4 linked regions of the Homo sapiens genome follow. The protein of the gene in region 2 interacts with the protein of the main gene of each other region in a biochemical or structural test. Each region holds a gene or a part of one and is shown on either strand. Other genes may lie near its edges.

Evidence for each region.
Region 1: the proteins of L1CAM (region 2) and NCAN form a complex in vitro, tested with the Homo sapiens proteins (one study listed by BioGRID).
Region 3: the proteins of L1CAM (region 2) and NRP1 form a complex in vitro, tested with the Homo sapiens proteins (one study listed by BioGRID).
Region 4: the proteins of L1CAM (region 2) and ITGAV form a complex in vitro, tested with the Homo sapiens proteins (one study listed by BioGRID).

The regions. Positions count from the first base shown.
Region 1 is NC_000019.10:19,207,667-19,214,959, reverse strand, and holds the start of NCAN (neurocan core protein precursor), read right to left. Parts: upstream 3,003-7,293; 5' UTR 2,896-3,002; intron 1-2,895. UniProt on the Homo sapiens protein: May modulate neuronal adhesion and neurite growth during development by binding to neural cell adhesion molecules (NG-CAM and N-CAM). Chondroitin sulfate proteoglycan; binds to hyaluronic acid.
Region 2 is NC_000023.11:153,883,160-153,890,063, forward strand, and holds the start of L1CAM (neural cell adhesion molecule L1 isoform 1 precursor), read right to left. Parts: upstream 3,015-6,904; 5' UTR 2,906-3,014; intron 2,819-2,905; exon of another isoform or gene 2,649-2,818; intron 2,278-2,648; exon of another isoform or gene 2,204-2,277; intron 1,115-2,203; exon of another isoform or gene 789-1,114; intron 738-788; exon of another isoform or gene 552-737; intron 1-551. UniProt on the Homo sapiens protein: Neural cell adhesion molecule involved in the dynamics of cell adhesion and in the generation of transmembrane signals at tyrosine kinase receptors.
Region 3 is NC_000010.11:33,212,657-33,219,681, forward strand, and holds part of NRP1 (neuropilin-1 isoform a precursor), read right to left. Parts: intron 1,166-7,025; exon of another isoform or gene 1,062-1,165; coding exon 730-1,061; exon of another isoform or gene 582-729; intron 1-581. UniProt on the Homo sapiens protein: Cell-surface receptor involved in the development of the cardiovascular system, in angiogenesis, in the formation of certain neuronal circuits and in organogenesis outside the nervous system. Mediates the chemorepulsant activity of semaphorins.
Region 4 is NC_000002.12:186,663,055-186,670,079, reverse strand, and holds part of ITGAV (integrin alpha-V isoform 1 preproprotein), read right to left. Parts: intron 6,313-7,025; coding exon 6,245-6,312; intron 5,587-6,244; coding exon 5,439-5,586; intron 4,955-5,438; coding exon 4,862-4,954; intron 3,377-4,861; coding exon 3,297-3,376; intron 2,931-3,296; coding exon 2,850-2,930; intron 2,410-2,849; coding exon 2,304-2,409; intron 1,319-2,303; coding exon 1,160-1,318; intron 380-1,159; coding exon 266-379; intron 1-265.

The sequences.
Region 1 (7,293 bases), on a different chromosome or scaffold from region 2:
AAACCTCAGCAACCTCTGCCTTCACCAGGCTGTTCTCATTTCTTCCCCTTGGAACCCTGAGCAAGTGTGGGGTCCCCTCATGGCTGTTCCAGGCCTGGCCAGGTATTAGAGAGAGACAGGACTCCGGGTTGCACCTGCCCCCAGCAGGGCCTTACGAGAGGACAAGGCCAGAGAATTCTCTTTCTCTCTCTCTCTCACACACACACACACACACACACACACACACACACACCCCGTTAACAGGTCAGACTACATCCAGATAGCTCTGCTTCTAATCCGGGACAAGCTGCTTCAATCTCTCTGTGCCTCAGTTTCCCCACCTGTAAAATGGAGATTATCCAGCAAGTACCACCTGCAGCTACTGTGAGGATGAAATGACCTAAGACTTGCAAAGTCCTAGAAATGTTAAATTTAAAAACAGCTCTTTAGACACAAAGCCTCATGTATACGCTAAAAATATACTGAGGTTGCCCAACATGGTGACAGACACAGTTTCAGGTGCACACCCCCCACACACACCCTCCCACTCCCTTCCACTCGCACCCTCACACACCCACACCCTTCTCTTAAAATACCTCCTCCCCAGGGCGGCCAGAGATGAGCATTTACACAGCTGTCTGGGGCCCGTGCCCTCATGAATAATGTACAAGCCTCATGCATATGCAAGCAGGGGCCTGCGGGGTGCTGGAGGAGGGGCAGCTCGGATCCATGTGAATGTGTGTGTGTGAGAGAGTGTGTGTGAGTGTGTGTGTGTAAGTGTGTGTGTGTCCCCTCCTTCACTTCACCCCCACCTCAAGTCTCCGTTAGCACTGAGTGAAGGTGAGTTTGCCAATGGGCATTTGTGAGTGTTTGTGACTGGGTGTGTGTCCGGGGTGTTGTGTCCTGGCAAGGGTGTGAAGGCGGTTGTGCCATGTGGTGGGTGCATGTTGTGTGTGTGAGCCTGCAGCAGCTCCGTGCACCGGGTGGAGCACATGGGACCTAGTGTGATCTGTGGATGTGTGTGAGTCTGAGTGACCCTCAGCAGGGGGCTGTGCGCACATGTGTGTGTTTCTGACCTGAGAGTCAGGGTGTATTAGTGTGCATGGGTGTGAATGTGGAACTCCGTGGAGGAGAAAGGGAGATGGGCTCAGTCATCATCCCGGGCTTCCCCTTGGGGATTTCAACCCCTGCTCAAGCTTTCCCTGTTAGCGCCCCAACTCTGAACACAGACCACGTCCCACACCCCCGTGCCAAGGGTGCACACTGCCAACCGCATGGAAAGAACCCTTGGCCCCTCCAGATACACAAGCGGGACACACACAGCCACGCACCCCAGACACAGACCCTGGGGAAACACACACTCACACAGATTCACAGTGACATTAACAAAGAGAGACAATATGGGCACTTACAAGACAGGCGGCGTGTCTTCTGCACAAAGACACACACCCACAGTCTCGGGCCCCCCCCCCCCCACATAAACCCCTTGATGAACGGAACAGCATCAGACATAGCTCCTCACTCACACGGCGATGCCAGCCCCTGGCACAAACCGAGATGGATAATTGTGGCCTTGGTGACCGATGGACACCCATCATTTTGCCACATGGTGATGTGGCCCTCGGCACAAGTTTTCTGACAAAGACACAACCACAGTCACATCAGACTCACAGGGGACCCTAGAACCCCTGGGCATACTCCCCCTCCCTGCCTGTCTGGGGTGGACACACACACAAAACCCCCATATCCTTGAGGGGGAACTTGATTTCAGAATGTCCATCAGCTATTGCGACGGCTGGGTTCTGGGGTCCCACAGTGCACCCACCCCTTCCTGCCTGCCCTGCCCCCACGTCCCCCGCTGGGGCCCAGAGCCAACCCTCTCCCTGGCCTGGCTGTTTCTCATTGATGCTGCCTGAGAGGAACAAAGCCCCACGCGTAGGGATGGGGGTCTCTCCTGCCCAGACAGGGCCCTTACTTCCCAGCCCCTTACTTCCCAGCCCCTGTGCCCCCAAACCAAGCCAGCGCTTCCACATGTGTCCATATGGACAGGTGGAACTAAAGGGGGTGGGGGTAGGGGTCTGTGTCATGCTGTAAGGACGTGGGAGGCTGTGAAGGTGCTGGGGGACAGCCCCCCCTCTGAGCTGGTATCCCTCACAGGTCCTGGGGATCCATAGCTGGGGGGTCTAGGGGACCCCCACCCAACATTCACCTGGGACACCCAGTGTGTTCCCTGGGATAAGGGACAACACCTCAACCCAAGGTCTAAGGGAATAACGGGGAACCACGTTGGGATGGGGACCCCCAGGACCTCCTCCCTGAGTCAGAACGTGGTGACCGGACCTGACCCAAAAGGACAGGGAGATGGCAGGGAGCCCCTTCCCCATGGCCGTTCGCTCTCAGCGCAGATACCCTTCCATTGGGCACAGGGTGATCTGGGGGCCCCCTCCCCACTGCAGTCCGGCCCGGAATCCTCCATTCAACCGCAAATTGGGAATCCCTACTTAAAATCCTGGGGTGTCTCGGCTGAGATACGGGGGTGCCCTGTTCCAGAGTCCCCCATTCGGCATCTGGGTGTCCTCTTCTTCCCTCCAAACTCGGGGGGCCCCTCCCCTAGCCCTGTTTCCCATTGCTCCCTCCTCAACCCTGAGACCCACCCCCAGCCCGGCCCCCTCCCCACCGGGGGGTAGTCTCCGGATTCCGCGGACAACCTTCCTCCCCAAATGTCTGTTCACCTAGCATTCCCAAGCCCCCTCCCAGTTCGCGCTCCCTCCTCAACCTAGGGCTCCCCTCCCCCGCTTCAGCCCCCTCCCCATTCTGGGGACTTCTCCCTGGTCTCAGGTCCTCTCCCTAATCCTGAGCTCTGTCTCTAATCCCGAAGTCTTCTCCCGCAACACGGCCCCCTCACGGATCCCCCACCTGGCTCCTAGCTCGGACGCATCCCGGGGCGGCCGCCGGGCACAAAGGACGCTGCGCTCCGACTCAGCCAGCTCCGCGCCGGGTCCAGCCCCTGCGCCCTGCGCTCCGCTGGCCCCAGCGCCGCCTCAGTGCTTATAAAGGGGCCGCGAGGGCTCTCTGCGCATGCGCCCCCGCCAGCCCGAGGCCTCTGGCTGCGCGAGGGAGGGGGCTCCCCTGCCTAAAATCCCCACCCCGCCCATTTTTTGGACACTCACCGCACCCAGGAGAAGATGGCATCGATTCTCCTCCCATTCTCTTTGCCCCAGGAACCGCGTTAAACGTCCCCATTATGCCCCAGGATGAGGCCGTCCCATTTTACAGGTGGGGAAACTGAGCCCCAAGGAGGCAAAGTCGCTTCCCAAGGTCACGCACAGAGGCAGAGCTGGGATTCGAACCTCGCCCTGCCTGATTCTCCAGGACTCACGTTCAAAGCAGTTTTGGCTACAATTACTGGTTTACCCCATTTACAGAGAGGAAACTGAGGCACGGACGAGACGGGGAGACTCCTTGTTCACACAGCTGGTAAGAGGCACGCAGGGTGGGAGTCCAGGTGTGTGACACCCCCGAGCTGTTTCCAGCAACTACAGCCAGATTGTATCATTCATTCATTCACCTTTGTCTGATCAGCATTTATGTAGCACACTCTATGGACTGGGTACTGCTGTTGACACATGAATAATTTTGCTTTATGCAGAGGCATAGGCATGTCCCTGCCATGAGACATGAGACCCCAATCTTTTTTTTTTTTTTTCAGACGGAGTCTTGCTCCGTCATCCAGGCTGGAGTACAGTGGCACGATGTTGGCTCACTGCAACCTCCACCTCCCAGGTTCAAGCGATTCTCCTGCCTCAGCCTCCTGAATAGCTGGGATTACAGGCACCTGCCACCACACCCAGTTAATTTTTGTATTTTTAGTAGAGATGTGGTTTCACCATGTCAGCTAGGCTGGTCTCGATCTCCTGGCCTCAAATGATCCGCCCGCCTCAGCATCCCAAAATGCTGGGATTACAGGCATGAGCCACCGCGCATGGCCTTGAATTACACATTTTAAGATGGTGAGTTTTATGTTATCTGTATTTGACCACCATTAAAAATATGGTAATGAGGGCTGGGTTCGGTGGCTCACACCTGTAATCCCAGCACTTTGGGAGGCCAAGGCGGGTGGATCACCTGAGGTCAGGAGTTTAAGACCAGCCTGGCCAACATGGTGAAACCCTTTCCCTATTAAAAATACAAAAATTAGCCAGGCGTGTTGGCAGACACCTGTAATCCCAGCTGCTCAGGAGGCTGAGGCAGGAGAATCGCTTGAACCCAGGAGGCAGAGGTTGCAGTGAGCTGAGACCATGCCATTGCACTCCAGCCTGAGTGACAGAGTGAGACTCCGTCTCAAAAAAAAAAAAAAAAAAAAAAAAGCCATGAGGAGGGAAATGTGCCCAGAGAGGGCAGGCTTTGCCCCTGCCTTCCTTCCTATGGTCGTGGTGTTTCTGTGCTGAGAATGGGCTCGCAGCGCTCCACCCTGGGTCCTATATCTGTGAGTGTGTGTTTAGCATCTCTGAGGGTGCGTGTCCATCTGGTAGGAGGATAGGCAAATGAGGGACAAGATAGCTTCCACAAGGTTATCAAAGAAAGGAGGCCTTGGCCAGGTGCCGTGGCTCACGCCCATAATCCCAGCGCTTTGGGAGGCCAAGAGGACAGATCATTTGAGGTCAGGAGTTCGAGACCAGCCTAGCCAACATGGTGAAACCCCATCTCTAATAAATCAAAATTAGGGTGTGGTGGCGGACGCCTGTAATCCCAGCTACTCGGGAGGCTGAGGCAGGAGAATCGCTTGAACCCTGGAGGCGCAAGTTGCAGTGAGCCGAAATTGGGCCACTGCATTCCAGCCTGGGCAACAGAGTGAGACTCCATCAAAAAAAGAAAAAAGAAGAAGAAAGGAGGCCAAGCACCGTGGCTCATGCCTGTAATCCCAACACTTTGGGAGGCTGAAGCAGGCAGATCACCTAAGGTCAGGAGTTTGAGACCAGCCCAGCCCAGCCAACATGGTGAAACCCTGTCTGTACTAAAAATACAAAAATTAGCCAGGCATGGTGGTGTTCACCTATAATCCCAGATACTCAGGAGGCTGAGGCAGGAGAATCACTTGAACCTGGGAGGCGGAGCGTGCAGTGAACCGAGACTGTGCCACTGCACTCCAGCCTGGGTGTCAGAGCAAGATTCCATCTCAAAAAAAAAAAAAAAGATTATCAAAGAAAGGGTAGGAATGAATGAGGGATAAGGGGGGACCCCAGGTGAGCAAGGGGTAGCCCTGGGGTCCAAGATGATACAGCGGGAAGCTGCACTGACTGTTTGACTCTGTGTCACAGAGGAGAGATGGAGGTCAAGGATCCCAGCTGATGTGAGTGTCTGCAGGTGACAGCTGTGTCAGCAGCACCCAAACAGCATGCAATGACTAGTCGGTGAGGCTGGAGCGTGCTGGGGGGTTGGCTGTGGCTCACACTGGGAAAGACGCTGAGAACAGCTGCGTGACGTGCGTGAGAACCGAGTAGCTCAGCCTCCACAAGTCTGGGGTTCAAACCCCCTCCCTGCCATTCGTAACAATGTGACTCTGAGTGAGCCATCTCATCTTTCTGTGTCTCAGTTTCCCCATCTGAAATGGGGATAGTCCAGGTGCCGGTGGCTCATGCCTGTAATCCCAGCACTTTGGGAGTCAGAGGCAGGAGGATCACTTGAGCCCAGGAGTTCAAGACCAGCCTGAGCAACACAGTGAGACCCCCATCTCTACAAAAAATAACTTAAAAGTTAGCAGGACATGGTGGCACACATCTGTGGTCCCGGCTACTCGGGAGGCTGAGGGGGAAGGATCGCTGGAGCCCAGGAGATTAAAGCTGCAGTGAGTCAAGATTGCATCACTGTACTCTGGTCTGGGTGACACAGTGAGACCCTATTTCAAAAATGAATAAAATAAAATGGGGGGAGGGTGGGCGCGGTGGCTCAAGGCTGTAATCTCAGCACTTTGGGAGGCCAAGGCAGATGGATCATGAGGTCAGAATTTGAGACCAGCCTGGCCAACATGGTGAAATCCCGTCTCTACTAAAATTCAAAATTAGCTGGGTGGGGTGGTGCACACCTGTAATCCCAGCTACTCAGGAGGCTGAGGTAGGACAATCGCTTGAACCCAGGAGGTGGAGGTTGCAGTGAGCCAAGATGGCACCACTGCATTCCAGCCTGGGTGACTGAGTGAGATTCCATCTTGGGAAAAAATTAAATAAATAAATAAATAAAATGGGGGATAATGAATGTCCCTACGTTACCGGTTGCTTGGAGAATGAAATGGGAAGTAAACACACAGGCAGGGACTGCTGTTTATTTTACAGGTGCTGGGGAAACTGAGGCTTAAGGAGCTAGGATCACCTGCCCGAGGATGTACAGAGTGAGTAGAGACCAGGTGGAAGCCAAGGTCTGTGGGCGCAGAGCTGAGCCCCAACCCCACCTATCCTCATCCTTCTGCTTCCCCCGCTTCTCCACTCCTCCCCACCCCTTGCCCCCACCCCCCGGCTCCTCGCTGGTGCCAGGGCTGAGCTTAGAGGGGCTGGCCTGGGGCCCAGGGGCGGGCTGTTGCCGGGGGCTTGAATGAGGCAACCTTGCCTGGGAATCTACTGGGCTCAAAGAGCTATTTATAGGCCTGAGCTGGGATTGGGCACCCCTCCCCAGCCCTGAGTGCCTTCTCTGTCCCCACCACCCCACTGGGGCCCTGGGCCAGGGGCTGCTGCCAGTGGGGGAGGGGTGGGGGATGGTACTGGCAGACCAGAGCAGAGGTGGGGAGGGAGGCTGGACCCTCCAAGAGAGCTGGGTCTCAGGGGTGGACAGTGCCTCCAAAGTGCCTCTGAACATGCCCAAGGTGACACATGGGTAAGTCACACACAATGCCACCAACAACCACTGACACACACAGTCACACCCCAGCCACACCCCAGCCACACTAACAGCACAGGTGGCTCACATGCAACCTCACCTGGCCACACACAGGTCTCACCCACCACACATGACCAAACCTGACCATACACAATGACACCCAGCCATACACAATCATACCTGGTCATGTACAACCACACCCAGCCATACACACCACACCCAGCCATACACAACCACACCCAGCCATGCACAACCACACCCAGCCATACACGCCACACCCAGCCATGCACAACTACACCCAGCCATGCACAACCACACCCAGCCAATGACAACCACATCCAGCCATACACAACCACACCCAGCCATATAAAACCACACTCAGCCATACACAACCACACCCAGCCATATACAACCACACTCAGCCATACACAACCACACCCAGTCATG
Region 2 (6,904 bases):
TCAGGGCCCTCAAGGGTGAGGCAGGGGCAGCTGGGGGGGACAAGGAGAGGAGCAGAGCGGTGGAAGACAGACAAAAGGGTAAGCAGAGAGATGGAGCAGAGCCCTGACGGGAAGGGGGAAGAGGGAAGGGAGGGCCAGGCAGGCAGAGGCAGAGGGAGGAGACGGGGAGTGGTGCACCCCATCCCCGGCAGCAGCAGGCTTCTGCCTAGAAGGAGGAGGAAGGTGATGGCCCTGGGGGTGGGGCACAGGGAGACGTGGGAGGCTGCAGAGGAGAGAGCAGGGGGGCGGGGGAAGCAGGAGAAGGAGGTGTCCGAGATGGGCCAGATCAGAGCAAGTAAGACAGCGACTGCAGGGGCAGGGATGCTGCAGGCCCATTCCAGATGGCCCCACCCAGGGACCCAGCCCCAGCCCATTGCAGGGGCAGAGGACAGGGCAATGAGCACCCTGCTGGGGACCCTAGAAGGGCATCCAGACCCCCCGCCTCCCCCACTGTCTGAACCACGAGGGAGGGAGGCAGGGCCCCCACTCATGCCCCCACTCATGCCTGGCAGACCAGGGTCTTGGCTGGGATCCCCATCCTGGCAGACCTCCTCACAGGACCCCACCACTACCCCAGGTTCTCCCATGAACGTGCCCTCCTGGAGCCTGGGCCACTCTGCGAGGCCGCATCACCCTCACACCCAGAAAAGCACTCAGTGCAGCCATTTCGAGCTTTGAAAGGGAACTTGGTGATCAAGGTAGGGCACACAGGCCTGTCTCCTCGACCCTCACCTGCCAGTCCTGGCCAGGTGCATGCCAAGGAAGGCGCCAGCTGTAGTTCCAGTGGTGGAAAGGGCTCGGACCTGGGAGAGGCCGATTGGGGGCACAATCTGGGCACCCTGCTCACTGTAGGAGCCCTCAGGCCAGGCCCTTCCTCACTCTTTGCCTCCCTTTTCCCTTCAGATAATCATCAAGAAAAAAGAAAACAAGTGACACCCCACGAAGACAGGGACAATGCTGGTCCAGTTTGTCACTGGCTCTTCCATGGGCAGCCCAGAGCCCGGCCCAAAGGAGCACTGGCCATGAGCAGCTGCCCAGTACACGACTGCCCATCGCTGGGATCCTGAGCGCCTGGGTAGGGAAGCTCTTCACTGGCTGCAGGGCAGGGGACCCCGCCACCTTGAAGCGCTGATTGTCCTCCTGATGCTCAGCAGGGAGCTGGCAGCTGGGAACTTGGGGAGGAGCCTTTTAGGAGCGCGGTGTAGCAAACCAGGGAGGCTGGGGCGTGCTGAACGTGTTTCCCTCTTGGTGATCAGATCACTAGCGATTCTTAATTTCTTTTGTTCTTTTCTGTATATTTCAAGTGTCCTACAATAAGATGTATTACTTTCGGGATCATACACACACAAACATCAATAAATATGGAGAGAGACTCAGATGCAGCAGAGAGAAATGACCAGGAGCCAAGGAGGTGGGAAGGTCCCAGGCCCAACCCTGCCCCAAACTTCCCATGTGGCCAAGACAGCCGAGTCCTCAAAGGCTCTGGAGCCCTCAGGTGTGCACATGTGGGCACTGCATGGGAGCTGTGCCAGGGGAGAGGCCAGGCTGGGCCAAGTCCCACCACCTGCAGCAAGGAGCTGACGGGAGGGGAGAGGCCCTGGGGAGGCCCCCGCCCCAGAAAGATGATGCTGGGCAGCAGCCCCCAGGGGAAGAAGGGCGGACTGCACTGATTTACGTCAGGGCCACATGAGTCAGCAGAGATGGCACTGGGCTGCCCCGATGCCCCTGCCCTCAGGGTGGGGTTAACAGGGGCAGGGTATCTACCTGGGGGGTGCCAGGCCCCCACTCCTTCTGGAGAAGGGGGCAGATGGCTCTAGGCCTGCCTTCCTGAGAGGGACAGTGATAGGTGGGGGGTCCAGATACCCTGTCGGGGGCAATGGATTGTAGTGCGTGTTCTTTGCAATCCCTGCCAACCAAGAGGCCCCAAAAGTCTGACCTGGAATGGAGGGAATAGGAATCGCTGACCCCTCCCATAACCGCACAGAGATAGGAAGATGTGGCAGTGGGCAAAAGACCTGCAGTGCGCAGGGACCGCCTGAGCCAGTGAGGCCCACCTTCCCTCACCCCTACCTGATGGACCCTACCTGATGGACACCCATGCACGGGAGGCACAGCAGTGGGTGCCCGAACCGACCTCACCCACTCCAGCCCTGACTGGCCACAGAGCCTGTGGAAACGGGCTCCAGAGGCGCCCTACGCCTCCGGGGAGGAGCCCCTGGCTCTGCGGCAGGTTTTCGGGTGAGCCCGGAGGAGCCCAGGCTGGGATTTGGAAAGAAGAAGGAGGAGAACAAAGCCCCCCCAACCTTGGGGCGGAGGGGCAGGCAGCGCCCAGTCCCGTTCACTCCCCTCCCCCCATTGCAGGGGCGGCTTATCCCGATCTACCCCTCACCACGCTGTCAGCCGGGATTTTCAACCAAACTGAGCTCTCGGCTGGGGATGAGGGGCAGCCACGCCCAGGGCCACACCCCACGGCGGCCTGTGGGGGAGCGCTCGACCCGATCTGGCTTCCTTTCTCAGACACGCACACACGCACGGGGACCCGCCAACTTCAGCCCCCGCCTGCCCACACAGACCCTGCCTGACGCCCCCCGCCCTGTTCTCCCGCCCAGGCCAGCATCTGGGGCCCCGCAGGTTACCCCTCACCTGTCGGGCTCGGGCACCCGGCATCCCTCCCCCGCCCCGCTTACAGCCCGCGGTGCCCGGAGCCCGACGCCCGGCATGGGTGGGGCTCCGGCAGCAACGCCGGTTACCGCGGGCCGGACCGGGCCGGGACTCCCTGGTCCGTGCACCCCGGGCAGAGCGGTGTGGTGTCGCCGGGGGATCGCGGCCGCGGCCCGGGTCGCACGGGGAGGCCAGCCCGCCTTACCTGCGCTGCGGCCACCGCTCGGGCTGCCCGCCCAGCCTCCGCGCACGCCGGCCTCGGACCCGCCGCCCGAGCGCGTCTGCGATGCCGATGCTGCGGCAGCAGCGGCTGTGGCGGGGCGGGGCGGGCGTGCGCGCAGGGGCGGGGGAGGGGAGCGCCGGGGAGGAGAGGGAGGGAGGAGTGAGATCACCTCCCCGGCCGCCCGCCCCGCCCCGCCCCGCCCCGCCGCACCCTAGCCCCTGGTGCCAGCCGAGCGCGGCTTGGGCTGGGGGCCCCCGGGCAGCCCACTCCGGGAGCTCAGCGGGACCCCAGCCGACGGGTCCCGCCAGACCCCCTTCCCCGCAGACCGGGAGTCTCCGGCCGGAGAGTGTCCTCAGCCCCAGCGCAAGGGAGCCCGCTGTGAAAGCTCGGAGCGGGAATCGCGGGGCGAGAGTGCTCCCAGAGGCCTGGGGCCGGGCGGTGGAGAGAGGAGTCCGGCAAGGAAGGGGATGCTCCCTTAGCCTCGGCCTGGCCCTCGACGGCGCCGGCCAGCGATGGGCACCTGCACGCAACGCCCCCCCAACACACACACACAGGGCAGGACTCCCGGGACCTCTCCCGAATGCCCCCCGATCCTGAGGGCCCAGTCAGGGTCCTGTTGGGAGGGGTGCGGGGGCTTCGTCCTCAGCGTGTTGGGGAGGCGCCGCGGAGCACCGGCTCCTGCGCACCCCAGAGCCCAGGTGGGCGGCAGGGTAGGAGGCGAGCCCAGGGGAGACAGGGTCTGGGAGAGGGTATCCCTCGAACTGCCACCCCCAACTCCCAGATTTTCCTCCAGCTCTCTGGTGTCTTATTTCTTTGTCCTCGGGATTGGCCCCATTCGACCTTTCCCGCCGACTCCACTCTCTCCCACTCTCCCCCGCAGCCCTGCACAGGATCGAGAAGGAAGGAGCTCCTCCCCAGTGCCCCCTCCTAGGCTCAAGGCCATGACCTCACAGGCGAGGAAGCAAAATGGAGGGGGTAAGAATTCCGGAGCCGGCGAGCTGGCTGCAGCCTCAGGGCTAGGAAGGCCTAGGGCCCCGATGGCAGATTGCAGATCTGGCGGCCACGGTATTTTTATGGGCATGCCTGTTGCCCAGTGAAGCATTCCAGGGGCCCTCGACTCAGTCTCACAAGACTCCCCAAGTGGTGTGGGGCCCTGGAGGGCCCACATGGGAGCAGCCCTGGCATCCTGGCTTGGATGCCCCACCCCCATAGTGCCAGCTTCAGTTCCCCTGGAATGGGAAGCTTGGGGTGGACCCATCTGTGCTCAGAGAGGGTCTGGATGCCATGTTTGCCCAGCCTTTAGGAGGAGAATGGACAAGACTAGGCACCTGAGTGAAGACGGACGGCTAGGGAGACTGCTTCCAGAGTGGGGGCACTTGCAGGGCATCTTCAGGTGACAGCAGAGGAAACTGAGCCCGCCTGGGTCACGAGGCCAGCAGGCTCATGAGCTGGGCCAAGAGGGCGTACTTTCCATGAGGCACTGAGCTGTGGTCAGCTTCCTGCCTTTGCTGATCTGAACTCTGATAGGCCTCTCTCCTTTCCAGTTGCTGCCTCCACTCACTCCCTACGTTCCCAGCCTTTCCTCCAAGCCCCAACTTCTGCAAATCCTTTACCTAATCTAGGGTTTGATGCCCATCAGGATGGTGAAGTAAGCAGGGAATAGAGCCCGTTTATACGCACCTGCTAATGTGTAGTGATGGGTCCATTTATGGTAACAAAAAATTCATTACTAGGATTACACGACATCACATTTCCTGAGCACAGCCATGGACCTGCCATCGTTACATTTCCTGCACATTTAAATTGCACACCAACCTGGGGAGGTCTGTTGAAGCATTCGCCCCACGTTACAGATGAGAAAACCAAAGCCCACAGAGCTCAAGGCTGGGTCCAGCAAGCACAGTTAGGAAGGTCTCTTTCTCTCCACTGGCTCATTGCATCCACACACACACCCCAGATGATGGTGCTGTTATTATCCTCACTCTCCCAGTGAGGTACCCAAGGTCCAGAGAGGGGCAGTCATGCAACCAGGAAGAAATTGGCACTATCAGTGCCCCCATTTCACAGATGAGGAAACCAAGGTTCAGAGGGGTCAAATGACCCACCCAAGATAGCCCAGAAGGTAAATGGCAGAACTCGGACTTGAATTCCCTTCTGCTTGACCACGATGCCCATTCTCACTTCCATGTAATGAAGTGGAGGAGCCAATGGGAGCAAGAGCAAGAGTGACAGAAGACCAAGGGCAGAGCAAGTCCCAGGAGAAGCAGGAGGGACTGGCCCTGAACAAGAGGCAAGCCACCCCCCCACTGCCATGTGCTTGCTGTTGGAGGTTAGGGGGACACCAAGTAGACAGATGACTGTCTCTTTCCCTTCAACGTCAAGTGCTTCTCACAGCCCTGCTCCCTGTGACCCAGCCCTCATAGACACAGTGGACTGGACAAGGGAAGCCCCAGACTCTGACCCTGTGATGAGCATGCAGAAGACGCAGAAGCCACAGACGACAGTGGGGCAGTAAGGAAGTGCCAGCAGGCAGGCGGGGTGGGCTCAGCCAGACGTGTCTTTCTCTGTTCTCCTTTCAATCTTTCTGTGTCTTCATATCTCAGGTGTAGCGCTTGGAAACAGCACATAGTTGGGTTTTGGTTTGGTTTGATTCTGTCTAACAATTCTTGTCTTTTTAAAAATCAGCTTTGAGACCTGCCTGGGCAACACAGCGAGACCACGTCTCTACAAAAAAAATTTTAAAATTAGGCATGGTGGTGCATGTCTGTAGTCCCAACTACTCAGGAGGCTGAGGTGGGAGGATCGCTGGAGCCCAAGAGGTTGAGGCTACAGTGAGCCATGATCACACCACTACACTCCAGCCTGGGTGACAGAGTGAGACCCTGTCTCAAAAAAAAAAAAAAAAAAATCAACTTTATTGGAGTATAATTTACATACAGTAAAATTCATCCTTTTGAGGTTTACAGTTCAAGGAGTTTTGGTGAATGTTGTGTGCAGCCAACCACTCCCACCACCCCCTGCCCTTGGCCACCACTGATCTGATTTCTGTCTTTTCTAAATTTTATTATAAATGGAATCATACCGTATATATTCTTTTGTCTGGCTTCTTTCACACTCACGCAGCATACTTTTTGAGCTTCATCCATGTTGGTGTGTGTGTTTGTGTGTGTGTGTGAGAGAGAGAGAGAGAGAGCATGCGGGCGAGAGAGAGCAGTATATTTCCTTTTGATTGCCGAGTAGTATTCCATTGTTTGGTTGGATCAGGGTTTGTTCAGCCATTCACTCACTGAAGGACACTTGGGTAGTTTCCAGCTTTGTGTGATTATGATGGAGCAGCTCTAAACATTTATATGCAAGCTTGTGTAAATGTGTGTCTTCATTTCTCTAAGGTAACCGCTTAGGAGTGGATTGTTCAGTCAAGTGGTAGATTGATGTTGAACCTGCCTTTGTCTTTGAACTGTGCAGGTCAGCTGGTCACACGGTGATGACTGCTGCTATCTCTGGATGTAGTCACGCCAGGTGAGTATTTGCTTTCTATTTGTCCTGCTTTCCCCATCTCTCTCCCCCACCTCCACTTTATTATTTTTTATTAGTGTTGTTATTACTTTGAGACAGGGTCTCACTCTGTTCCCTAGGCTGGAGTGCAGTGGTGTGATCATGGCTCACTGCAACCTCGACCTCCTGGGCTCAAGTGATCCTCCCACCACAGCCTCCCAAGTACTGGGACAACAGATGTGCCACCACCACACTTGATTAATTTTTTTTTCTTTTTTGGTAGAGGTGAGGTCTCACTATGTTGTCCAGACTGGTCTTGAACTCCTGGGCTCAAGTGGTGATCCACTGCCTTGGCCTCACAAAGTGCTAGGATTACAGGAGTGAGTCACTGCACCTGGCCTCACCCCCACATTGTATCAGTGAAGGTGTGTCTGGAGTTGGTTCCTTCCAGTGGGTTCTTGGTCTCGCTGACTTCAAGAATGAAGC
Region 3 (7,025 bases), on a different chromosome or scaffold from region 2:
ATGTATTTTATCACAATTAATTTTTTTTTTTTGAGACGGAATCTCACTCTGTCACCCAGGCTAGAGAGCAGTGGTGCAATCTCAGCTCACTGCAACCTCTGCCTCCCGGGTTTAAGCAATTCTCCTGCTTCAGCCTCCAGAATAGCTAGGACTACAGGCACACGCTGCCACACCCTGTTAATTTTTTGTATTTTAGTAGAGATGGGGTTTCACCGTGCTGTCCAGTCTGGTCTCGAACTCCTGAGCTCAGACAATCCGCCCGACTCGGCATCCCAAAGTGCTGGGATTACAGGCATGAGCCACTGAGCCTGGCCCACAATAAAAATTTATAAAAGAAACAAAGCACTTAAACTAGGGGTAGGTTTGAGATGGGGGGAGGGCAGACCCAAACGACTGAGTGGTATCTGCAAGGGGTTCTGAGCGCTGGCTGGATGGCTGCTGTCAGCCTTGGGCTTCCCCGTCTCCTGTCTGCATGTTGAGCTGTCTGTCCATCCCTACAGCCAGGGAATGGGACCAGCAATGCAATTCTTTTGCATGTTATCTCAGACATCACTTTTCATGCCATATTCCTGTCTTCCTAGAATCAAGGGTCTTACTGACCCCATCACACACCTCCTCTAATGTCATGGCTGGAAGGAAATAAGAAGCCCTTCCTCGGGAGAATGCCAGAGGCCCTTGATTGAAGTCAAGGACATAAGGGATGACCTCCTCCCAGTCCCCAGCCCTCACCTTCGCCTTGCGTTTGCTGTCATCCATGATCATCTTCCAGTCCGAGCCGTTGTTGCTGTACCCGATCTTGAACTTCCTCATGAACACCTTGTTCTCTCGGTGCTTCCCACCCTGAATGATGATGCCCCTCACGATCTTCTCCTCCCCCAGGTCTATTTGGAGCCACTCATTGATGTAGGAATGAGGTGCGGGTGGAAGTGCCCAGCCAGAGCGACTGGTTACCAGGCGGATGTTTTCAGGCATCCAGTTTCTGTCCCCTTGGTTGGATGATGTGATCTGGGAGTCAGAAATAAGTCCAGACACCATACCCAACATTCCAGAGCAAGGATAATCTGGGAAGTGAAATGAAACAGATAATGTAAAATGATTTCCTGGGCGACTCCATGCTAAGAAATAAAATACAACATATGGAATAAAGACATGATTTTGTACCCAATCATATACAATTTTCAGTCTCTGGATTATTTTACAGTAAATCTTTCCTCCCTCAAACCTTCCTCCTGCTCTGTCAGAATTCCCGTCTCTAAACTCACATCCCAGTAAGGCAAATCTTCAATAAGAACATACATTTCCCCCGCTTTGACATCTTCTAAGTTTAACATTCATATTTCAGTCTCTTTGGTATCCAGAATTCATCCCTGGATCAAGTACTGGCCCTGCTTAAGAGAAGTTCATAGTTTATGATGGATTGGAGATATGCATAGAAGTCAATCCGATAGCAGGAAGGTTGCTAAAACAAAGGTAAAGAGACAGTGATGCAGAGGTAAAGAGAACGAATGCATACTCAGCCTGCAGAGGTAATAGAGGACCTCCCAGGGGAGGTGGCATTTGAATTGAGTGTGGGAGAATAGTGACCATGATCCCCCACAACTGTTCTCCCCACCCCTATTTCTAATTGCATTGGGGACTTTCCACATGAATGTCTCACTGTCATCTCAAATGTACCACAAGCAGACTAAGACAGTCCTTTCCCCTGGATACTGCATCTTTTCACTGAACCCTGTCTTTTAATTGGTGGCATCACCAATCATCCACTTCCTGCCTAGTCATCTCGTCATTTCCGTTTTGCTGCCAAATCCTGTTGTTTTTATTAAGTACAAGAAAGCAACAGAACTCTTGTTGCTACCTTCCTTTCTTCTGGATTTATCCTGATCCGAGCGCTCTGGCCAGGGTGCTACATCAGCTCTTGGTTGGCCTCCCAGACCCCACTTTGAATCTCCACTACACCAACTGCTACTTAAATTTTCAGAAAATGTTGTTTTAAGCATGTCATTCTCATCCTCAAAAATCTCCACTGCTAAGTGAAAGAAGCCCAACAAAAAAAGGACAAATATGGTCTGATTCCATGGATAGGAGTAGCCTATCACTAGATCAGTCAGATTCGTAGAGACAGAAAGCAAAATGGTGGTTGCCAGGGCTTGGGGGAAATGGAGATTGGGAGAGTTAGTGTTTCATGGGTGCAGAGTTTCAGTCTGAGACAATTATAAAATTCTGGAAATAGTGGTGATGCTTGCACAGCAATGTGACTGTACTTAATGCGACAGAATTGTACACTTAAAAATGTACAATGATAAAATTAAAATGGTTAAAAGTGGTTGAAAATTGTTAAAGCGGTAAATTTTATGTTATGTATATTTTACCCCGACAATAGAAAAGAGATATCTTTTGAAAATGTACCATGGTTTTCCATTATTGATAGGAAGATATCAAAACTCGATCTGGCATTCAAGACCCTCATTTTGACTTCATCCCATTTGCCTAATTTGATTTTCTATTACTGACAATACATCTCAGTTAAGCAATTCTCTTCTCATACAGTCTAGACGTCATCCTCATCATTGCCTTTGCTCAAAACCCAGCTTAAGACTCATGAAGAGAACTTTTCAAGCTACTCTAGCTTTTATTCTGAGCTCTCCCTTCTCAGAAATATGATGTAAGTAGCACAGAGCTCAGCATTCCACTGCTCTCTAAGGCTTTAAGATTGTTAGTCATGTACCCACAGCTAGATTATAAGATCTTCAAAGGCAATGAACAGCATCATAGACCTTTTTATGTCTTCTAAAGCAGCCCAAGGAGCTTCTGAGCACAAGGAGAGTATCAGTTGTTGATGAATTCAACGCTGGCTTAATGACAAAATGTCCAACACTTCAAGTATTTTCCTTTAGAAACTGTACATCCTAATCAAGAACATGTGCAAGAATGATAACCTATTTTTCTTTGAAGCAACTCAATTCTGCGTTATATAATAAAAATTTAGCCTAAAAATATAACTACCCCTAAGTGAGAGGCAAACATCTAATGCAATTAAACTAAGTCCACATTATCAGCTGAACCTTAAGAATTCATTACTCAGATACTTTCCACATGAGTTCTATGGTCCAGATCATGTCGTTTCTTTACTCAGACATTCAGTGCCTTCTTGTCTAGAAATTACGCACGTCATTTTCAGTCAGGCATGCAGGCCTTCCATGTCATGTCCTTGCAAGGCCTCTCCCCATTCACTCCTTTAACCAGTGCCAATTGGCATGAAGAACTTCCTTACTTCTGGGAGTTTGGGAGCTTTCTTTCTGTTCCCTCCACAAGGAATTCCCTGTCATGTTACCCTTTTCCATTATCTGAACTGCTTAAAATCCTGACCTGTTTTCAAATGCCACATCGTTTACTCAGTTTTTCTGTTCTCTGCAACTGGACACAGTTTTCCATTTCTGGGCCTCTTCACACCATTTTATCTGCATTTCCCTTCTTTCTTTCTTTCTTTTTTTTTTTTTTTGAGAAGGAGTCTCGCTCTGTCTCCCAGGCTGGAGTGCAGTGGGGCGATCTTGGCTCACTGCAAGCTCCACCTCCCGGGTTCACGCCATTCTCCTGCCTCAGCCTCCCGAGTAGCTAGGACTCCAGGCGCCTGCCACCACGCCCGGCTTATTTTTTGTATTTTTAGTAGAGAGGGGTTTCACAGTGTTAGCCAGGATGGTCTCGATCTCCTGACCTCGTGATGCCTGCCTCGGCCTCCCAAAGTGCTGGGATTACAGGTGTGAGCCACGGCGCCTGGCCCCTCTACACCCCGGCCTTTTTTTTAATTTTTATTTTTAGAGACAGGGTCTCACTCTGTCACCCAGGCTGGAGTGGAGTGGTGTGATCATGGCTCACTGCAGCCTTGAACTCTTGGCCTCAAGCAATCCTCCCACCTCAGTCTCCTGAGTAGCTAGGACTACATGTGGATGCTACCATGATTGGCAATTTTTTTTTTTTTGGTCTCGCTATGTTGCCCAGGCTGCTCTCAAACTACTGGGGTCAAGAGATCTTACCATTTTGGCCTCCCAAAGTGCTGGGGTCACAGGCTTGAGCCACCATATCCAGCCCTCAAATGCTGATGAGCACATTTAGTTCTTTGGAATGCTGCTTTCTGCCTCCCCAGATTTTAACTTCTTTGAGGACACGAACTAAGTCATATTTTTCTGTTTTATATGACTCTTCATGCCCTGTTTTATACATAGTATTTGCTCAACAAATATTTGTTGAATGAATCAACTTAATACAATGAAAGGCAGCTGTCATTTTCTCAATTGCCCTTTCCTGTAACTTAACCACAGTATTTGCTCCAGGCTGGGATCTGGAAACCAAGAATATACTCAGTCGGGATTAAAAAAAGATTTACAAAAACAATTTTACTAAGGGACTATGAAACTGTAGTGTTAAAAATAGAGTGCCATTTTTTGGCCACGGTGTTCATACCTGCCTGATTCCAAACAAGCTTTTAGAAAGGCAATGTTTAGCTGGTAATGGGGACCAGATGTTACCATTTGGAGGCAAACATAATTAACTTGAATACTGTAAGGAGAGCAGAACCGTCACCAGATTAATGCCCTTTCTCTAATGCAGACTCGGCTGGGGCACAGTTTCTGTATTCATAGACTTAGTGATGCCCTGTCCCCATTTAGCCAACATATCCATGGTGCAAAGTGAGACTGTTATTCCTTCCATATAGCTGCCTCATTAAAAAAAAAAAAATGAAGAGGCAACTTGATTTACCTTTGACTGAAAACTATGTGACTCACTTTTAACAATAATTTGCAGAAAAATTACATTAACAATTAATTCAAGGTTTGAATGAGATGCTAGCGTTTAACTCTGTCCCTTCATAGCAGGCTGGTACAGGTCAGCCCGGTGCAGGTCAAACCCTTTGGAAATAGTGTTGCCAGATTTAGCAAATAAACAACAAAACAAGAAACAAGATGCCCAGTGAAATTAGAATTCAGAGAAATAATGAATAATTTTTTAGTACACATATGTCTCAAATATTGCATGGGACATACTTATTCTGAAAAATTATGTCTTGTTTGTCTGCGTCAAATTTAACTGGACATTTTGTATTTCACTTGGCAGCCTTGTTTGGAAAGCTTAAGACCACTTCAGGATGGAAGGGAGAAATGAGTTTTGTAATGGAGGATTGAGGTCGTTATTTTCAGTGATATTATTTTACAGTAAATCTCTGTACTCAGCTTTAATGGAAAAACTGAGGTATACTGGTAAATCAAATATCCAGTTAACCAATTTCCAACGAATGAGAAAGTAATAACTGCATTCGATGGGAGACCCTGAATGAGCATAATTTAATCTCTCCTTGATGACTCAGAAAGTACCTCTGGATATTATGGTGTCTGAGATCATCACTGTGAATTCTGATTGACTTAGGAGCACATGAATATGTGTTGAAGCGCTGGGTAACAGACTTCTGGTTAATAACAGAAGATAGCAGAGTTCAGAGTGTGTTAAGCAGCCATTGCCCAACGTGATTTCCATCTCTGCCAAAATGATGAAGCCTACTTTGTCAAAATAATGAAAATGCCCTTCATCAATCACCTATAAAGCAGAATGGTTTGTTCCAATCTTATTTTCTTTATATCTCTATATGGTGACAAACTCTGAATTTTCCAGGATTACTATATTTCTTTTTTCTTTCTTTTTTTTTTTTTTGAGATGGAATCTTGCTCTGTTGCCCAGGCTGGAGTGCAGTGGCCAGTGGCACAATCTCGGCTCACTGCAAGCTCTGCCTCCTGGGTTCACGCCATTCTCCTGCCTCAGCCTTCTGAGTAGCTGGGACTACAAGTGCATGCCACCACACCTGGGTAATTTTTTGTATTTTTAGTAGAGATGGGGTTTCACTGTGTTAGCCAGGATGGTCTCAATCTCCTGACCTCGTGATCCACCTGCCTCGGCCTCCCAAAGTGCTGGGATTACAGGAGTGAGCCACTGCGCCCAGTCCAGGATTACTATATTTCTAAAAAATAATTTCTGAATCAAAAAATTAGGGTAAAACTTGGGGCTTTAGTGGCTTTGGAAGCCAAGTGATGTGTTCAAGCAGTAACCTTTCATTAGGTAGGCTTAAACAAAATCCAGATTGAATTGTGACTACTCAGCAGGGTGAAAATTTGAGGTCCAGCCGCTTGTTTCTCAGAAGGCGTGCATAAAACTGCACTTCCTTCATTCAAAAGTAACCACCAAGCATTTGTTATGTTCCAGGCATACAGGACACAACAGAAAATGAGGCAAACAGGTCCCCTGCTCTCCTGGACCATCTAGTCCAGCAGGAATACTGTAGTCCTCCTTTCATTAATCTCTACTCAAGGGGACCTTTGATTTTCATTTCAAGAAAATGAAAATTATCTGCTTCTGATAATCAAGAAGAAAAACTTGAAATTACTGTCTTATTAGAGGCTCTGCTTGCTGGGGCATATGCTAGGTTCAATATATTGAGTGCCATGTACTATTTTAGTCTAACGGGTACCATTTAGTGAGCACTTAGTTTAAGCCAGGGGTGTTCCAAATTTCCTCTCATTGACTCCTCATTATAGTTGCATTAAGGTGATCCTCACAGACCAGAAAACGGAGATCAGAGTGAGTCTCAATGTCTTATCCATGGTCCGTCATGCATACACTAAGTGGACAGTCCACAGTCAAGCCTGGATATGTCTGCCTGCCTTCTGTCCATGTGACTATCGTAACGTGTTAGCCTCTCCAAAAACCTGCTTCTGGCAATTATTTGGAGACTAGAGACATTTTACTAGAGAGAAAATATTTAAAAGTATAGTGGAGACCATGATTAAGAGACTAGCACTAGGAACTGAAAGGAAGCACCTTATTTGAAAAATAGCTACTTAATTATGTATGAAAATATTAGGATATGCTATTTTAGACATCTAAGTTTACATAACTAGATCATTTAACTATTTTTAAAAATTGAACAAATTATTTACCTTCTTTGCTCACATTCCTAGCATCACCTCTCAGGGAAATCCTTG
Region 4 (7,025 bases), on a different chromosome or scaffold from region 2:
AAAGAGGACAGTTAAAGAACTAGAGTAGGAGAATCAAAGTTGGGACATAAACTAGTTTTATTAGCCATCTACAAAAATAGCTCATTTGAAGAAAATATGGCATTAATCTGACTAGGAAAAAGGAAAGTGAGAGGAATGCATGGTATAAAAATAAATGTAGTTGTTCAAGCACAGCTGTTGTTATTTTTGAAATGTTCTTTGGCGTCAGTTCTATAGTCACATATTTTTAAATGTCTATGGTGCACATATTTGAAATGGCACTTACCAAAGTGTGAATATCTCCTTCACTGAGGGCAAGATCCCGCTTAGTGATGAGATGGTCCCGCTCACCTTGCCCGGCAACCGTGTCATTCTTTTCAGTTGTTTGCAAAGATGAGATCTAATGCAATCACATTAATAAAATGGTGGTAAATGATAATGAAAAACATTTTACATCAGCATTTTGATATAAACTCTTAGATATGATTAAAAAATAGTGAATGAAAATTTAGTATGACAGAATATTTACCACTCAGTATATAGTGAGCAGTAAGGACAGAAAATAAAGATTAGAGTCTTTAATATGTACCAAAAAAGTTAGCTCTCCCTAACCATTATTTTCAGCCCTTGCTTAGCTAGAGTGGAAACTGATGAAACATACAGAAATGGCCTGAAATTCCACAGTACATTTGTGATGTCAATCATGGGTATATCTTTTATTTTGTTTCTTCACCTTTCCTTAGATCATATTGTGTAATAGTTTCTAGTGCAAATCTATGATGGAGATGACTATATCCAAAAGTCAAGATAATCATGAGTAAAATGGTATAGCTTATCCCAAAGGTAGAAATTTTAACAACAAAACACCCTTGATGTGATATTATGCCCTGAAGAAACAACAACGTGATGGAGCCAAGGTCAAACTGAGTCACTGAAGGACACATCTCATGAGGCTCAGTAAGCACTCTATGAAGATGTGGTTCACTAGACATCACAGAATCAATTCTTACCCATTATACAAATGAACTTATCCTAAGTGTACTGCTTATGAACTAAACCATTTTTTGCAGAGTGGGTTTTATATTAAAATAGTTGTTTTATTTTATGAATTTCTTTTACAGGTTTAGAAAGAAGGCAATGAAATATCATTGTAATGAAGAGCTGCTATTAAGCATATTACCTTAATTCTCAAAGGGTTGATCTCCATATCTGAAGTGCAGTTCATTGGTCCATCAATATCATAATGAAGGATATACAACAGAGTGTTATTATTATATTTGTAAGGCCACTGAAGATGGAGCATTGCCTTGCTGAATGAACTTGGACCATTGTTTCTCAGCTAAGGAGAAAAAAGAAAATGTATCTACACCTTGGGCAAAAATCTGTTCCATAATCCTTCCCCTACATCAACTTTAGAAATCATGTTAGCAATAGGTTTTAAATAACAGCAATTTCCACAGTTAACCTCTAATTACAATGTGACCATTTTTATGCAAAAATGATCAAACTCAACATTTGTCTCTAACACAGAGTAATATGTGTCAGGATAAAAATATAAACAAGGTTGGGCACAGTGGCTCATGCCTGTAATCCCAGCACTTTGGGAGGCCGAGGCGGGCGGATCTCTTGAGGTCAGGAGTTCATGTCCAGCCTGGCCAACGTGGTGAAACCTGTCGGTGAAACCCTGTCCCTACTAAAAATACAAAAATTAGCCGGGCATGGTGGTGCACACGTGTAATCCCAGCTACTCAGCAAGCTGAGGCAGGAGAATCGCTTGAACCCGGGAGGTGGAGTTTGCAGTGAGCTGAGATCGCGCCACTGCACTCCAGCCTGGGCGACAGAGCAAGACTTCACCTCAAAAAAAAAAAAAAAAAAAAAAAAAAATATATATATATATATATATATATATATATATGTATGTATGTATAAACAAAAGGCAAAATATTTAAAAGTTATTAATGAAGGATGACAAAGAAAATTTCTTCCTATAGAAATAGTTTTGATTATTTGCCATAGGTATTTTCAATTTTTAGCCAGAACTACAAAATGCCCATGAGAAAGTACCAATGACATTTCTTTATTCAAGTAGAACTAATTTATTTTAAACAACAAATTATATAAACTGCTTTATTTAAACAAGTCTATTTGTCAAATAAAAATGAATTTATGTATAGGGAAAATATTCAAAGAAATCTCTGACACATACTTAACCAATGTAGAGTTTACATAAAAATTACATAGAATTTTTTTTTTAAAGTAGCTTAGTTGTTCCTCTCTTCGTTGGCTTGCTCACGAGGTTTGAGTAAAATCTAACAACTGCAAACCTCATAGATGTGCTGAACAACTGGCCCAACATCTTCTTCAGTCTCAGGGTTCTCCTTGTGCTCCCAGTTTGGAATCGGAAGAAAGACATGATCAGGACTCGAGACTCTAAACAATGACCAAAGAAAACCTACCATGAATATCAAAATGATATAGTCAGTTCATTTTCAAAAGTACCCCATATTCATTACTCAAATAAATAAAATTAGATTTAATTTTAAAAAATACTTTAAAAGAAAACTAATGAACACACACATGCACAAAAACTGCTCTTATGAAATGTACACGTAACAGGTGAATTGACAATTTGTGTAAAAGTTCAACAAAATTATTTTGTGCATGTTGTTGCCATGTCTTGTTCCTTTTGAGGATCACCCAGTATTGGGGGTTTGGAACATACCTAGGATTTTATTTCTACAGAAGCTAATGCCCTAGTAAAACCACCACTAAACATGCAGGGTCTATTGTCCAGAAAAGGCTAAGGCCTGACAGTTACCTTTAAAAAGCAATCATGAGAATGAGATACTCAACTAAGTATTCATACTGACCCTCTTATCTCAACTGCAGCTAAAACAGCAAGATCAACTTTGTGAGATACAACTGGGCTTACTTTGTCAAATAGATTTGAGCTGAAAAAGAAAAAAAAAAACTTAAAAATGAATTATGCATAACAACCAAGAACATACAGAGGCAAACCCAGTGAAACTAAAAATTAACAAACGAAACAAGTGTAAAGCTTATACCTCAAAATAGTTATTTTCATTAACACTTAATTCCAAGAAGATGAACATTTTCTTTCTGGATTTTAAATTTTGTTTTACAAACTCAAATCTGACAATAAAATTATTCTTATAATGTAAATATTGATTTTAAAATGCTATAGTCAAGCAATAAAATTTAATCTGCTACTTTATATTTAAAGTATATTACATAGTATATTTACAACAAATAATATTTATTTGATAGTTATAAGTGAATATAAGTTGTTTTCATACCTTTGGATTTGTAAGTCAAATTTCACAGAAGTATCCATCTCTGACTGCTGGTGCACACTGAAACGAAGACCAGCTAAGAGCTAAAGGAGAGAGGAAAAGATAGTAATGCTAGTCAATGTCTAATTAGCAAAATTTCAAATCCAATGTCTAAATAAAAAATAATGTTCTAAAATGGGGTTTTTCTGAGCTTACAATAAAACTGAACAAAGATAACTAAATCTTATTTTCTATCAAACCTATTTTACTTAATATACCTGGACCAATCCATAAGAGAGCCTATTTAACAACAATTATTAATCATAATTATACCTCCTTATAATACTAACCATCTTTCTAAAAAGTGCAAAAGTAAATGTTTGTTGATCCAGTGAAAGTCTAGCAACTGGGTACAATAATTTGATAACACGAAGCTAACCACCAAAGTATGTGCTGTGTTCATAGGCCAGGAAAGAAGAAATGGATGGTTTACTAGAGTAAGGGAACATGGCTAAAGAAGGCATGAGTAGGGCCACAACCAGAATTTCTCCACACACCTCTCATAACACTCCCAACACCAAATATCCTAATTCCTGCAGGCAGAAAATTGGTAGATTTTAAATAAAACAATTGAACCACCAGGTACAAAAAAGAAGGCTTCTTGGGGATCACACAAATGACATATAAAAACAGTACTTCCTGGGTTCTGCCTCCCACTCCACAAAACCTGGAGCTGGCTACTTGTAATAAGCAGAAACTATATAATAACCAGAAAGTTAGAGAGAATGAGAATATGAGAAAATAAAAGGCATGCTCATTGTTAATAAAACATTGAATACACGTGAAAAACTGAACTTAGGGTAATTTGTTCAAGTTCTCATCCCTAAGATACCATACATCTAGAAATACTAATGACTTGTAATAGAAAACATACTAAAGAAATATGGAATATTTAGACCTGTATTACCACAGATCTTCAAAGTACCAGTATCAATAAGTCATTAAATAAATTCTATTGAAAAAGTCACACAGCATATGCTGCCATTTTGTCCTTGCTACTAGAAATTCTACAAGGTATATTTTGTTTACTTTTTAGAGGATTCGGAAAGCAAGCCATTGGCTGCTTCTTTTCAAGCTCCTGGGCACCCTGCTCCACCATCTGAAGGGGAGCCTGATTTAACTGACCTTCACTTTGATCCTCTGTGTGGGGCCTGTGATGGAATCTAGCTCACCTAGGATTGACAGTCTTGGTAGTTGCCAGAGTAGCTTTTCAGGATCCATTAAGGCATCAGTGTAAAATAGCAAAAATTATTATTTCAGTCCTTAGTTTAAACCACGTTCTCATCCATTCACTAAAGTGAAGGAGGCATAAAGAGCAGCTGATTGCAAACCGTGTAGGAGCACAACCAATTGTTTTCGTATCTTAGTTAAAACTAAGCAAAACTCTGCTAATCATTTAACTATTATATCGAAACCAATTTAAGGACATTGTTTTGAAGTGTTTATTTTTAAAAATTACTATGAGCCCAGACAACAATATGCTTTTCTATTTGCCAGGGAGAAAAATCCGTTTAATTAAATTGTCTTACTTGAGTTCCAGCCTTCATTGGGTTTCCAAGGTCACATACCACCTGGCGAGTTTGGTTTTCTGTCTTAAATGCACAGGAAAGTCTTGCTAAGGCCTTTGATAGACCAAAAAAAAAAAAAAAAATGGATATGAAAGGAAATAAAGTATCACGCAGTTGGATATTTCAGTTTCTTGTCCTAAGCAAATAAATCTAGTTGAGCAAACCAGGAGGTAAGGAAAAAGCCAGAATTGGGTACAATTGCCACATGGAAATGCAGAAGTGTTTCTGAAAGATCCCTAGAGGACTACCATACAAAACCATACAGCCTCTGACAAATAATTTGATGGACAGGCTTAGACACTTTATCTATCTAACCTTGTTTCCAGGCACTTAGCTTGCAATTCTAAAAATGTCATATCAATGCATTATGCAAAGTATTAGGCTTAAAAGGAATTATGTAAGATAGGCACTCCATTGTCTATCAATTTAGCCTTAGGTAGAATAGCTAAGCTTGTGCTTCACTAAATAGGGGAACAGCTCATTAATGTTAATAAGATCCGTGAGTGCATTTCAATTTTTAAAGAGGCAGCCTGCTTACTTCATTGTTTCGGACAACCCCGATGAAATCAGCCTGCAGTGGAATGGAAACGATGAGCTCAGCTTCGTAGGCACCTTCTCCTTGATTCTGAGCCTTAACAATCAATGTCAGAGGGTTGTCATCCCCAATATAGATCTTCTTTTGATCACTACAAGTTAACAATACAAATCCAGACTGAGAAAAAAAGACTACATGGGGAAAGTATGACTGTTCAAAGAAAGAAGAGATAAATACACAGCACTGACATGTTCAACAGTGTCTCAAGGTATTTTAAGACTACTTCACAGCTTGATAGAAAACAGAAAATAGCACACTGGGTGCAAATCGAATGCTTCTCTCAATAAAAATAAACATTGATGCCACTAATATATCACTATCATTCATATCTATTACTGAAGTGAATTACATGTACTTTGTAATTCCCCAATATTTTTCTAAAAGCTAAATTAATCACGTGTCATAATTCTCACAATATTCTTTATAATTCATATGCCTTACAAAATGGTAAGGATATTCCTTGAGTTCAAAGAATGTTTATGATGAAGTGTATCTTTAAAATGATACAATATTATTTTGTGATATTACCCAAAGTTGAATGGTAATAACTCTTTCAACCTAGGCAACTAGTGAAAACACAGTGGATATTTTCTTTAGAAGCTCAATATTGATAGTTTTAGTGTTATAGAAAATCAGGCATTACCCTCCAGGATAACTAATTCTCGTTAAAATATGTTAGTCCTTTGAATAGAAAAATGTGCCCTTCCATTTAAATTTCTTACTACATTATTATTTCAAGCAAAACTTACCTATCTACAGAAACTTCCAGCTTGGGTTTACAGACATTGTCTTCACCACAGTCAAGTAGAATGTGAGCCTAGAAAAAAACATTTTATTTTTCTACATGAAAAATACCAATGCAGGTGGCATAAGCAGTGTTTATCAATATCTATGTGGTTAAGCCTATATGTACACATGTATATATTTTCAGATACTCATCAGCTTGTTTGTTGTATACCTGAATGCAAAAGAGACCATGGCCACTTATTTTTAAGCAGGTCAGTGTAGCCAGTCAAGAAAGAGAAAGAAGAAAAAGATTCATAGGATATGATACAGTTCCTTGGAACCTTTCAGTTTTATCTCAGATTAAGCTGTTATCATATTTGAATGAAGACTGGTGTAGAAAAGAAAGTAATAGCCAAGAAATGAGGCTTCATTTTTACCCTGCTGCTAGTTAAGTTGTGAGATGTTGGGCAAAATAGACTCCCTTCTAGAGTTTCTCATTATGGACTGTGCCTCTACCAATATCAGGAAATAGGGCTGCAGAGGATAAAAGAATAAGGAGCTGTAGATATTCAGCAGCAATTCAGACAGGCAGAGAGACCAAGGGGCAAAAGAAACTGGATAAAATGAGTCCAGCATTGCATGGTCATTTGGAAAAAGATGAAGGAAAAGGAACTTGAAGCATTATAGTTAACCAATCAGGGTAGGTGAAAAAAACAAAGACCTGAACTTTTTCCCCACTAGATCTGGCCAGGAGAATGTTCCAGCTAGAGCAAAATGGAAACACCCAAAAGAGAGAAACAGTGG